Linked DNA regions of Homo sapiens. The protein of the gene in region 1 purifies or fractionates together with the protein of each later gene. This does not show direct contact. Each region holds a gene or a part of one and is shown on either strand. Other genes may lie near its edges.

Region 1 (5,758 bases):
GCCTGTATGTGTTAAACTCTCTGCCCACCTGGCCAAATATCATCATTCTCAAAGCCCAGAAAACCTTCCAGATTGCTCACAGACTACTCTAGGCCTTCTTCACACCCCATGCTGGACTGTTCATGCAACCGTATTCAGCCAAAGGCCCCTGAGGATTAACTGTGCGGGGAAGTCAGAGGGGAAAGGTACTTTGTTCCTCTAGTGGTCAGGAAAGGTCTGGGCCCCTTGCAGAGGAATAAAGGGCTGGGCGGGTTCTAAGGCCCAGAATTTGCTTCCTCCTGGTTCCGGGGGAATGGGCAGGCAACTTTCTGAAGGAAGTGGTATGTGTGAACTGGGGCACCAAGATACTAGAAAAATGTTGCTAGAGAAGAGGGGAAGGCCTCTGCAGGTGGAGAATAAGAATAGCACAGGAAAGGCCTGGCAGCAGGAAGCAGGCAGGATGTCTGGGGAGCAGTGGGTGTGCCTGCAATGGGGTCAGGGTGGAGGGGTAGGGGTATAGGAATTAGATGGATGTTTTCAAGGATTTGGGACCTCTGTTCTTTGGTGTTTGTTTGACACATCTGAAAAGAATGCATACACAAAGAATTATCATGTGAGAAAGCATTGGTTAACGCTAAGGTAATAATTAGGATTTGTGGAAGGTGGAAAAAATTACCTAAACATTTTTAGCAATTGGGAACTGCAAAATAAGCCGATAACATCCCTGTTAACACTTAGGAAGAGTCTTCATTCATGACATCTGTTAAACTAGAGAGCCTCCATTGGCTGTTGGAAGGTTCCTCAAACACAAAACAGAAACAAGGGGAGTCCCTTGACTGGTTCCCATGTTCTTAAGTGTTCTCCCCGCCCCTTCTCCAACCTCAGCTCCTCGATGAAGCAGACCTCCATAACTTGAAAGAGGGTGTTATCATTCCATAGACATCTATCTTATACAGAGCATCACCCTCACATTTCTTCTACATGCTGGGTCTTCAGCTGCGTTCTAGGAACACCATGTCACACACTCTTAAGCTGCACATTTATGCTAAGCATATGAGAGAATGACAGGAAAGACTTTTTTTCAGATTATGAACTCACTCCATTTAGTGTATTTCAGAAGGTGCATACTTCTCTTCATCTGTCAGTGAAAGAAGTTGGAAATTAACTTTGAAAAATAAATCAGCAAATAGCAAATTTTCTCAAAAGTTACAGTCACGTATATAGGGCAAGAAATGAGGAAGGGCAAGACAGACTCCACCCACATTAGTGAGTTTCATCAAACACCCAAGGGTGGAGAGAAAAGGCAGCTTTCAGAAAGGACTGTGTTATGAAATGAGGCAGGTGGGGAATGTGTTTTCTAAACTAGATCTAGGAAGTGGAATGTGGAATCAATCTGTCCTCCTCCCTTTAAGGACTGTCCACTGGTTAATAAATTTTTTAAAAGACTAAAAAATAAACTCCTCACACACAAACACCCGCAAAACAAACAAACAAACAAACAAACAAAAAAAACAGCATTAAGATGTCCCATGTTACTCTCGAGGGGAACCAAGGAGCAGCTTAACAATTAGCATTAGTGTACTAGAGAGTCATTACAAGCATGCCTTGCTTTTAAGCAAACAAAAAAATTTTTTGAAGCAACAGAACAAACGAGTACTGATCACTTTTCTGACAATAAACAATGATTCAAAAGTAACTAGTATTAGGATGGGGAAGGGAACCATACCTATGAGCCTTGTCTTGCAAGAGTATATGTTGGTAGGATTAGGCATTTGTCATTATTGCAGAGAATGAACTTCAATTTTTTTTTTTTTGAGACAGGGTCTTGCTCTGTCACCCAGGCTGGAGTGCAGTGGCGAGATCTGGGCTCACTGCAACCTCCACCTCCTGGGTTCAAGTGATTCTCTGACCTCAGCCTATCAAGTAGCTGGGACTACAGGCATGCACCACCATGCCCGGCTAATTTTTATATTTTTAGTAGAGATGGGGTTTCACCATGTTGGCCAGAGTGGTCTCGAAGTCCTGACCTCAGGTGATCCACCCGCCTCAGCCTCCCAAAGTGCTGGGATTACAGGTGTGAGCCACCGCGCCTGGCCTAATTTTTAATTCTTAGTTTGACTTAAACCTTGCTTTTAGTGTGATGGCGACAAAAGCTGAGCTGAAAGGGCTTTGGAGAGATGTTCACAGCAGCACATGCCTGAGGCTCTCTCTTCTTTGGCTCTGGAGGCTTGGTTAACAGCATTCTTTTTTTATTTTATTTTATTATTATTATACTTTAAGTTTTAGGGTACATGTGCACCATGTGCAGGTTAGTTACATTTGTATACATGTGCCATACTGGTGTGCTGCACCCATTAACTCGTCATTTAGCATTAGGTATATCTCCTACAGCTATCCCCTCCCCCCTCCCCCCACCCCACAACAGTCCCCAGAGTGTGATGTTCCCCTTCCTGTGTCCATGTGTTCTCATTGTTCAATTCCCACCTATGAGTGAGAATATACGGTGTTTGGTTTTTTGTTCTTGCGATAGTTTACTGAGAATGATAATTTCCAATTTCATCCATGTCCCTACAAAGGACATGAACTCCTCATTTTTTATGGCTGCATAGTATTCCATGGTGTATATGTGCCACATTTTCTTAATCCAGTCTATCATTTTTGGACATTTGGGTTGGTTCCAAGTCTTTGCTATTGTGAATAATGCCGCAGTAAACATACTTGTGCATGTGTCTTTATAGCAGCATGATTTATAGTCCTTTGGGTATATACCCAGTAATGGGATGGCTGGGTCGAATGGTGTTTCTAGTTCGGTTAACTGCATTCTTTAGGCCCTTCTCTGTGAGTGCAGAATGCTCTGCATACTCAACAGCCTTCCAGTCCGAGGCCAGTCTGGAGTGATAGGCTTCTGTTTTTTGTTCTTGGCAAGTTTTACAAGAGTAGAGGGATCATTCTCTGAGATGAATTTGGGTCTCGACAAGCAAGAAAGGAATCTTTGGATAGCGGTGAGTTATCACAGGCACCCACTTTTCTTTCACATTTTTGAATGAGGACGGAGATACCACTGAAAAACTGACTAGAAATACATCTGTTTGTAGATACTTAGCAATTGCAATCTTTTATAACCCTCTTGCCCAGAAGTGTCAAAAAGTCCAAGAGCATATGGCTCTCCACCAACCATAACCATGACCACATAGTTGTTAGAAATAGTTGGTACATTTTCAGATGTAAATTTGTTTGTTGTGTAGGATATCGGTATGTTTTACCAATGGCATCATTGCTTACAACAGCACACTTAATGGTCTGCATTGCTGAAATAGTTTTGTATTTACTTTAAATATTTCGAACTTGATGTTGACCTCAGCTTCTCCCTGGGGCATGGCGGCACTCAGGACCTCTCTCCTAGACAGTGCTGGCATTGCAGTTGGAACTTGGGCCTCTCACTCTACCCTAACATGCTCTCCTCACCCCAACTCTTCCAAAGACTGTGACTCCCAAGGAAATGAATGCTTTGTGCCCTGCACCACATGCTAATCCCAAGCTCAGTTCCAGAGTGCAGCTGGCTTTGTGTGATCTTCTATCTCTGGTTTTCATCTATGAGGAAGGGTTCTGCCCATTGACCCAGAGGACCCTCTCTGAGCTGACACCTAAGCTTCTTTATTATAAATGGTGACTTCATATTTAAACTTAAATGCAAACAATACTAATTTGAAAAGAGAAAAGTATATTTCCATATAGGCTGTGTGCTCTTGAAGGTCAGAATATGTTTCTCCTTTTCAACCTACATTTCCTGGGCGTCCACCCTTGGTAAAAGAAAAAAAATGGGCTGGGTGCAGTGGCTCGTGCCTGTAATCCCAACACTTTGGGAGGCTGAGGCAGGAGGATCACTTGAGCCCAAGAGTTCAAGACCAGCCTGGGCAATATAGTGAGACCTCATCTCTACAAAAAAATAAAATAATCAGCCAGGCATGGTGGCACATGCCTATAGTCTCAGCTACTCCAGAGGCTGAAGTAGGACAATCGTTTGAGCTAGTAGTAAGCCGTATTCATGCCACTGCACTCCAGCCTGGGGAGACGCTTTCTCAAAAAAAAAAAAAAAAAAAAAAAAAAATGACTCCCCTGTCTACGTGGACCTTGGAATGGGAAGGTGGGAAGACCATCAATGAATAGCAACAATCATGTGATCTGTCCAGCGACCAAAGAAGTAGGAATAGGAGAGAAGGGGAAGCAGAAAGAACAACCATTTCTGGGGTCTGGAGGCGTGAAAATGCCTGGCATATTTAGGAATGCTGACATGGCAAAAGAGACTGGGAAATAGGCAACAGCTAGCTCTTCAAGGGCCTTAGATATAGTGCTAAGGAATTTGGGCTTTCTCCTAGAGGCCAAAGGGAGCTGTTGAAGGTTTTGGAATAGGGGAGGGATCCGGGATGGGGTATACGCCAAGAAATGAGGGTGGGATTCTGCAGACCACCATGGCAGGCTGCAGACAGAACCATCCACTGTGGGTGTTGGGGCTGGGGAGGATGACTGGCATCCCAAGTTGGAGCCCTCTTCATCTCTACCACCTGCAACATGACAACACCATGAGAGCTCAGGCATATCTCGGCGCCTCTCCAAGCCTCAGTCTCTGCTGCTGCACAAGGGGAATGATAAGCCATTATGGGGTTAGAATGAGGATTTAATGTCATAGCAGGTATATAAACTGAAGAGAGGTAGTGAATGGTGGCTGTTGACCAGGTGTGCCAGCCTTAGAAGACTCCAAGGCTTGGTGCTCATGCCCACAGGGCACTTCACCCCCTTGTGTCTGAGCTGTCTGCCACCAGGTGAGAGCTTTGTGAGCACAGAGGCCAGCACAGCCTCACCCTACATAACAGGTGCTGAGAGCTTCGTGTGACATAGCCACTGAGCTAACCATGTTACAAATGTTAGTTCCTTTCATTATATCAGGTGATACTATATAGCATATTTTATTCACATTTTGTAGTGGGAAACCAAGACACAGACAGATGGGCTAACAGGCTCAAGGTCACACAAAGCCACTCAATTCTGACTCCTGAGCCTGGGAACAGTAGGCCTTTATTATTAGTTATTTTAAATGCCATCTTACTACAAAGGCAATCTGTGGCTGCTAGACAAAAACCAAACAGGATAGAACTGGCTGGAGCAACAATTTCAAGTCCCCTGTCCTTCCCTACTTCATTCCCAGGGGCAATCAGTTCATCACTTGATACATGTTGAAAGTTCTTGAAAATTAACAGTTGTCCTTAAGAACAGAAGTATGAGCACAATGGTAACTCCTGGACTGGTTAATTTCTTGCTAAAAGTTATTTAACTGATGGTGATTGGTTAATTAGCTAGCTGTAGGCATTAGTTTATGTCTTCATTTATTCATTCATTCAGCAGACATCCTCTTAGCCTTCACTCAGATTCATTCCCTGTCTAGGGCAAGAGAGATGTCTCAACTCTACCAGCTGCCATCCAGCTGTAGGACCAAGGGTTAGCTGCTTAAACTTTCCTTTCTCGGGAAGTTGATAATAAGTGAAGGATTATTATTAGAATTCTGTGAGATCATGCATGTAAAGTGTTTAGCAAGCACCCAGCACAGGGTAAGTGCTCAGTGGTTGCTGCTGGGAAGCTGGAGGAGAGCTCACATGACGGTTCCCCAACAAACATTTGTGTGTGGAACTGGGCTGTGTTCAAGAGGCATGGCGGGACTCCCTAAGGGGCCCACAAACCCCATGGGGTGGGGGTCAGTCAAGTGAGTCAAGTGCACATACAATAG
Region 2 (4,085 bases), about 62 Mb from region 1:
ATTCATGATAGTCTCATATTTTGGCGAATTAATAGCCGCTTGGCAGATTGGTCTGAATTCTGACAGCACAGACCACAGTGTCTTAATTTGCAAGTCTCTCCTCTGATACAATCATACTTGATGGCTTTTTTTCCACATTAATCTAAGACGTCACTTGACAGGAAGTTAAATGCCTCTATTGAGAAGGTATGTGGTCCATTTTCTTTCTTACCATTGGCCAAGAATATCTCACCTGTTAGGGTTAAAGGGATGAAAGTGATAGGGTTAAGTTTAGCGATAGCTTAATGTTCATTCTGTGGTGGTTTTTTTTCTTTTAACTTACTGGACTCTAGTGGGAATCCTGGAGAATGGAACCTACTCCTCTTTCCTCTGAGTTCCTGTGTGTGGATTTCAGGCCACAGAGGTGCAAGGTGCATGAACAACAAGGTGCTGGTGTGCAGGCCTGTGTGATTTCCTGGATTTTGACTTGCTAGCCTGTTAGGCTCATTTACAATTTCACAAAATTGGAATGTAGAATTTTATATATCAGTAATGGCATCTGTTTGCTTTCCTATCTCGTTTGCTGTATATGCTTGAGTCTCCAGATAAGTTGGGTGTCTTGAAGTGGATATGGGAGACCTGGGTCTGACTTCTGGTTCTGCTACTTAAACTAGTGTATGTCCCTTCTCAGATTTAGTTTCATTGTCTATACAATGTGACTTACTTTTTCTTTTGGGACTATTTCAGTGATTAAACATGACAGCTTATATATAAATGAAAGTTGTAAACACAGTGCTTGGCACAGAGTGGGTAACCAATCAACATTATTTAAATGAGTAAGAAAAGTGAATTTGAGCAAAAAAATAAAAAACAATACTATTACCTTATAACTCATAGAATAAAATAAGTATCAATGAGTCCATACTGATGTAAATAAATAATTGAACAAACAAGGAAATGGGGGAAAGGAGATAATTCTTTCTTAAAGAGGAATTCTGTAATAAATGTAACACATGTTGAAGGAATGAGAAAAATAGAAAAACCATTACAGTAATGGCTGTCGCAGGCAAGAACTACCAATATTTGCTAGAATTAGCAGGCAAAAGTTTGAGGAAAAACAGATATTTGTATAGCCTCAAAGTACTGCCCCTAAAATAGATATTAATTACAAAGGGAAAATAATAACTTTATAGAAAAAACTGGCAGATACCACCTTAGCCAGGTGATCAAGGTTGACATCACTGGTAATAAGACATATTAACATTATGTACCCCTGATATAATAAATCCAGAAGGACATACTCACTTCTGTGGTATTCTGGTCAAAAAATGCATAACTTTAATCAAATCATGAGAACATTACAGACAAATCCAAATTGAAGGACATTCTACAAAATACACGATGGATACTGTTCAAAAGTGTGAAGGTCATGAAAGACAGGGAAATACTGAGGAACTGTCACTGGTCTGAAGAAACCAAAAAGATACAACAACTAAGTAAGTGCAATGTGGGATCCTGCAGTGAATCCTGGAATAGAACAAGGACATTAGTGGAAAAATTGGAGAAATCCAAATAAACTCTGTAGTTTAGTTAATTATACAGTACCAGTGATGACTTCTTAGTTTTGATAACTCTATTATGGTTATACAAGAATTTAACACAGGGAAAGCTCAGGGAAGGGGATATGGGAATTCTCTATTTTTTAAACTTTTCTATTAAGCCTGAAGTTTCAAAATAGAAAGTTTTTAAAAAAAAGTTAATAAGACAGCTGTAATTATATTGTTGTCTTTTTATACGTTTACAAAGGGCCAAATTCACTTGATGCTCTTTCTACCACTACCCTGCTGATGTGGTTTGGCTGTGTCCCCACCCAAGTTTCATGTCGAATTGTAATTCCCAGTGTTGGGGGAGGGATCTGGTGGGAGGTGATTAGATCATGGGGGCAGATTTCCCCCTTGCTGTTCTCATGATAGTGAGTTCTCAAGAGATCTGATTGTTTAAAAGTGTATAGCACTTCCCCCTTCACTCTCTTGCTCTCTTGTTGCCACAAGATGTGGTTGCATCCCTTTCATCTTCTGCCATGATTGTAAATTTCCTGAGGCCTCCCCAGCCATCCTCCTGTACAGTCTGTGGAACTGGAAGTCAATTAAACCTCTTTTCATTATAAACTACCCAGTCTCAGGTAGTTCTTCATAGCAGTGTAAAAATGGAAGAATACAAAAAATTGGTACCAGAGAAGTGGGACATTTCTATAAAGATACCTAAAAAATGTGGAAGCAACTTTGAAACTGGGTAACGGGGAGAAGTTGCAACAGTTTGGAAGGATCAGAAGAAGACAGGAATATGAGGGATGTTTGGAACCTCCTAGAGACTTGTTGAACAGTTTTGACCAAAATGCTGATAGTGATATGGACAATGAAGTCCAGGCTGAGGTGGTCTCAAATGGAGATGAGGAACTTATCAGGAACTGGAGCAAAGGTCACTCTTGCTATGCTTTAGCAGAGACTGGTGGCATTGTGCCCCTGCTTTAGGGATCTGTGTAACTTTGAACTTGGGAGAGATGACTTAGGGTATCCGGCAGAAATTTCTAAGCAGCAAAGTGTTCAAGAGGTGGCCTGGTTGCTTCTAAAAGCCTATGCTCATTTGCATAAGCAGAGATAACTTATATTTAAAAGCAAAGCAGAGTATAAAAGCTTGAAAATTTGCAGCCTGACCATGTGGTAGAAAAGAAAAGCCATTTTCTGGGGAGAAATTCAAGCTCACTGCAGAAGTTTGCACAAGAGGAGCCAAATGTTAATAGCCAAAACAATGGATAAAATGCCTCCAGGGCACTTCAGAGACCTTCGTGGCAGCCCTCCCCAGCCCCACCAAACAGGCCCAGAGGCCTAGGAGGAAAAAAATGGTTTCGTGGGCTAGGCCCTGGGCCCAGCTGCTCTGTGCAGCCTTAGGACATGGCAGCCTAATTCCCAGCTGCCCCAGCTCCAGCTGTGACTAAAAGGGGCCAAGGTACAGCTGAACCATTGCTTCAGAGGGTGCAAGCCCCAAGCCTTGGCAGCTTCCACGTGCTGTTGGGCTTATGGGTGTGCAGAAGGCAAGAGCTGAGGTTTGGGAGCCTCTGCCTCAATTTCAGAGGATGTATGGAAACGCCTGGATGTCCAGGCAGAAGTCTGCTACAGGGGTGAAGCCCTCATGGAGAGCCTCTACTAGGGCAGTGCAGAGGGGAAATGTGGGGTTGGAGACCCTACACAGAGTCCCCACTGGGGCACTGCCTAGTGGAGCTGTGAGAAGAGAGCCATCATCCTCCAGACCCCAGAATGGTAGATCCACTGACAGCTTACACTGTGTACCTGGATATGCTGTAGGCACTCAACACCAGCCTGTGAAAGCAACCATGGGGACTGTACCCTGCAGAGCCACAGGGGCAGAGCTGCCTAAGGCCTTGGGAGCCCACTCCTTGCATCAGAGTGGCCTGGATGTGAGACATGGAGTCAAAGATTATTTTGGAGCTTTAAGATTCAAAGAGTGCCCTGCTGGGTTTCAAACTGGCATGAGGCCTTTAGCTCCTTTGGGCCAGTTTCTCCCACTTGGAATGGGAGCATTTACCCAATGCCTGTACCTCCATTGTATCTTGGAAATGACTAACTTGTTTTTTATTTTACAGGCTCATAGGTGGAAGGAAGTTGCCTTGTCTCAGATCAGACTTTGGAGTTGGACTTTTCAGTTAATGCTGGAATGAGTTAAGACTTTGGGGGACTGTTGAGAAGGCATGATTGTGTTTTGAAATGTGAGAAGAACATGAAATTTGGAAGAGGCCGGGGTGGAATTGACATGGTTTGGCTCTGTGTCTCCACCCGAATCTTATGTTGAATTATAATTCCCAATGTTGGGGGAGGGACCTGGTGGAAGGTGACTGGATCATAGGGACAGATTTTCCCCTTGCTGTTCTGCTGTTCTCATGATAGGGAGTGAGTTCTCACAAGATCTAGTCGTTTAAAAGTGTGTGGCATTTCTCCCTTCACTCTCTTGCTCTCTTGTCGCCATGTGAAGATGTGCTTGCTTCCCCTTCACCTTCTGCCAAGTTTCCTGAGGCCTCTCAGCCATGCCTC

The links.
Region 2: the proteins of SLC22A13 (region 1) and CMSS1 purify together in Homo sapiens (affinity purification with mass spectrometry; one large-scale study listed by BioGRID and IntAct). This does not show direct contact.

Annotation. Positions count from the first base shown.
Region 1 is NC_000003.12:38,267,483-38,273,240, forward strand, and holds part of SLC22A13 (solute carrier family 22 member 13), read left to right. Parts: intron 1-5,758. UniProt on the Homo sapiens protein: Anion antiporter that mediates the transport of urate, orotate and nicotinate in exchange for organic or inorganic anions. Translocates urate and orotate across the apical membrane of proximal tubule epithelial cells and involved in urate renal reabsorption.
Region 2 is NC_000003.12:100,178,942-100,183,026, reverse strand, and holds the end of CMSS1 (protein CMSS1), read right to left. Parts: 3' UTR 1,295-4,085; downstream 1-1,294.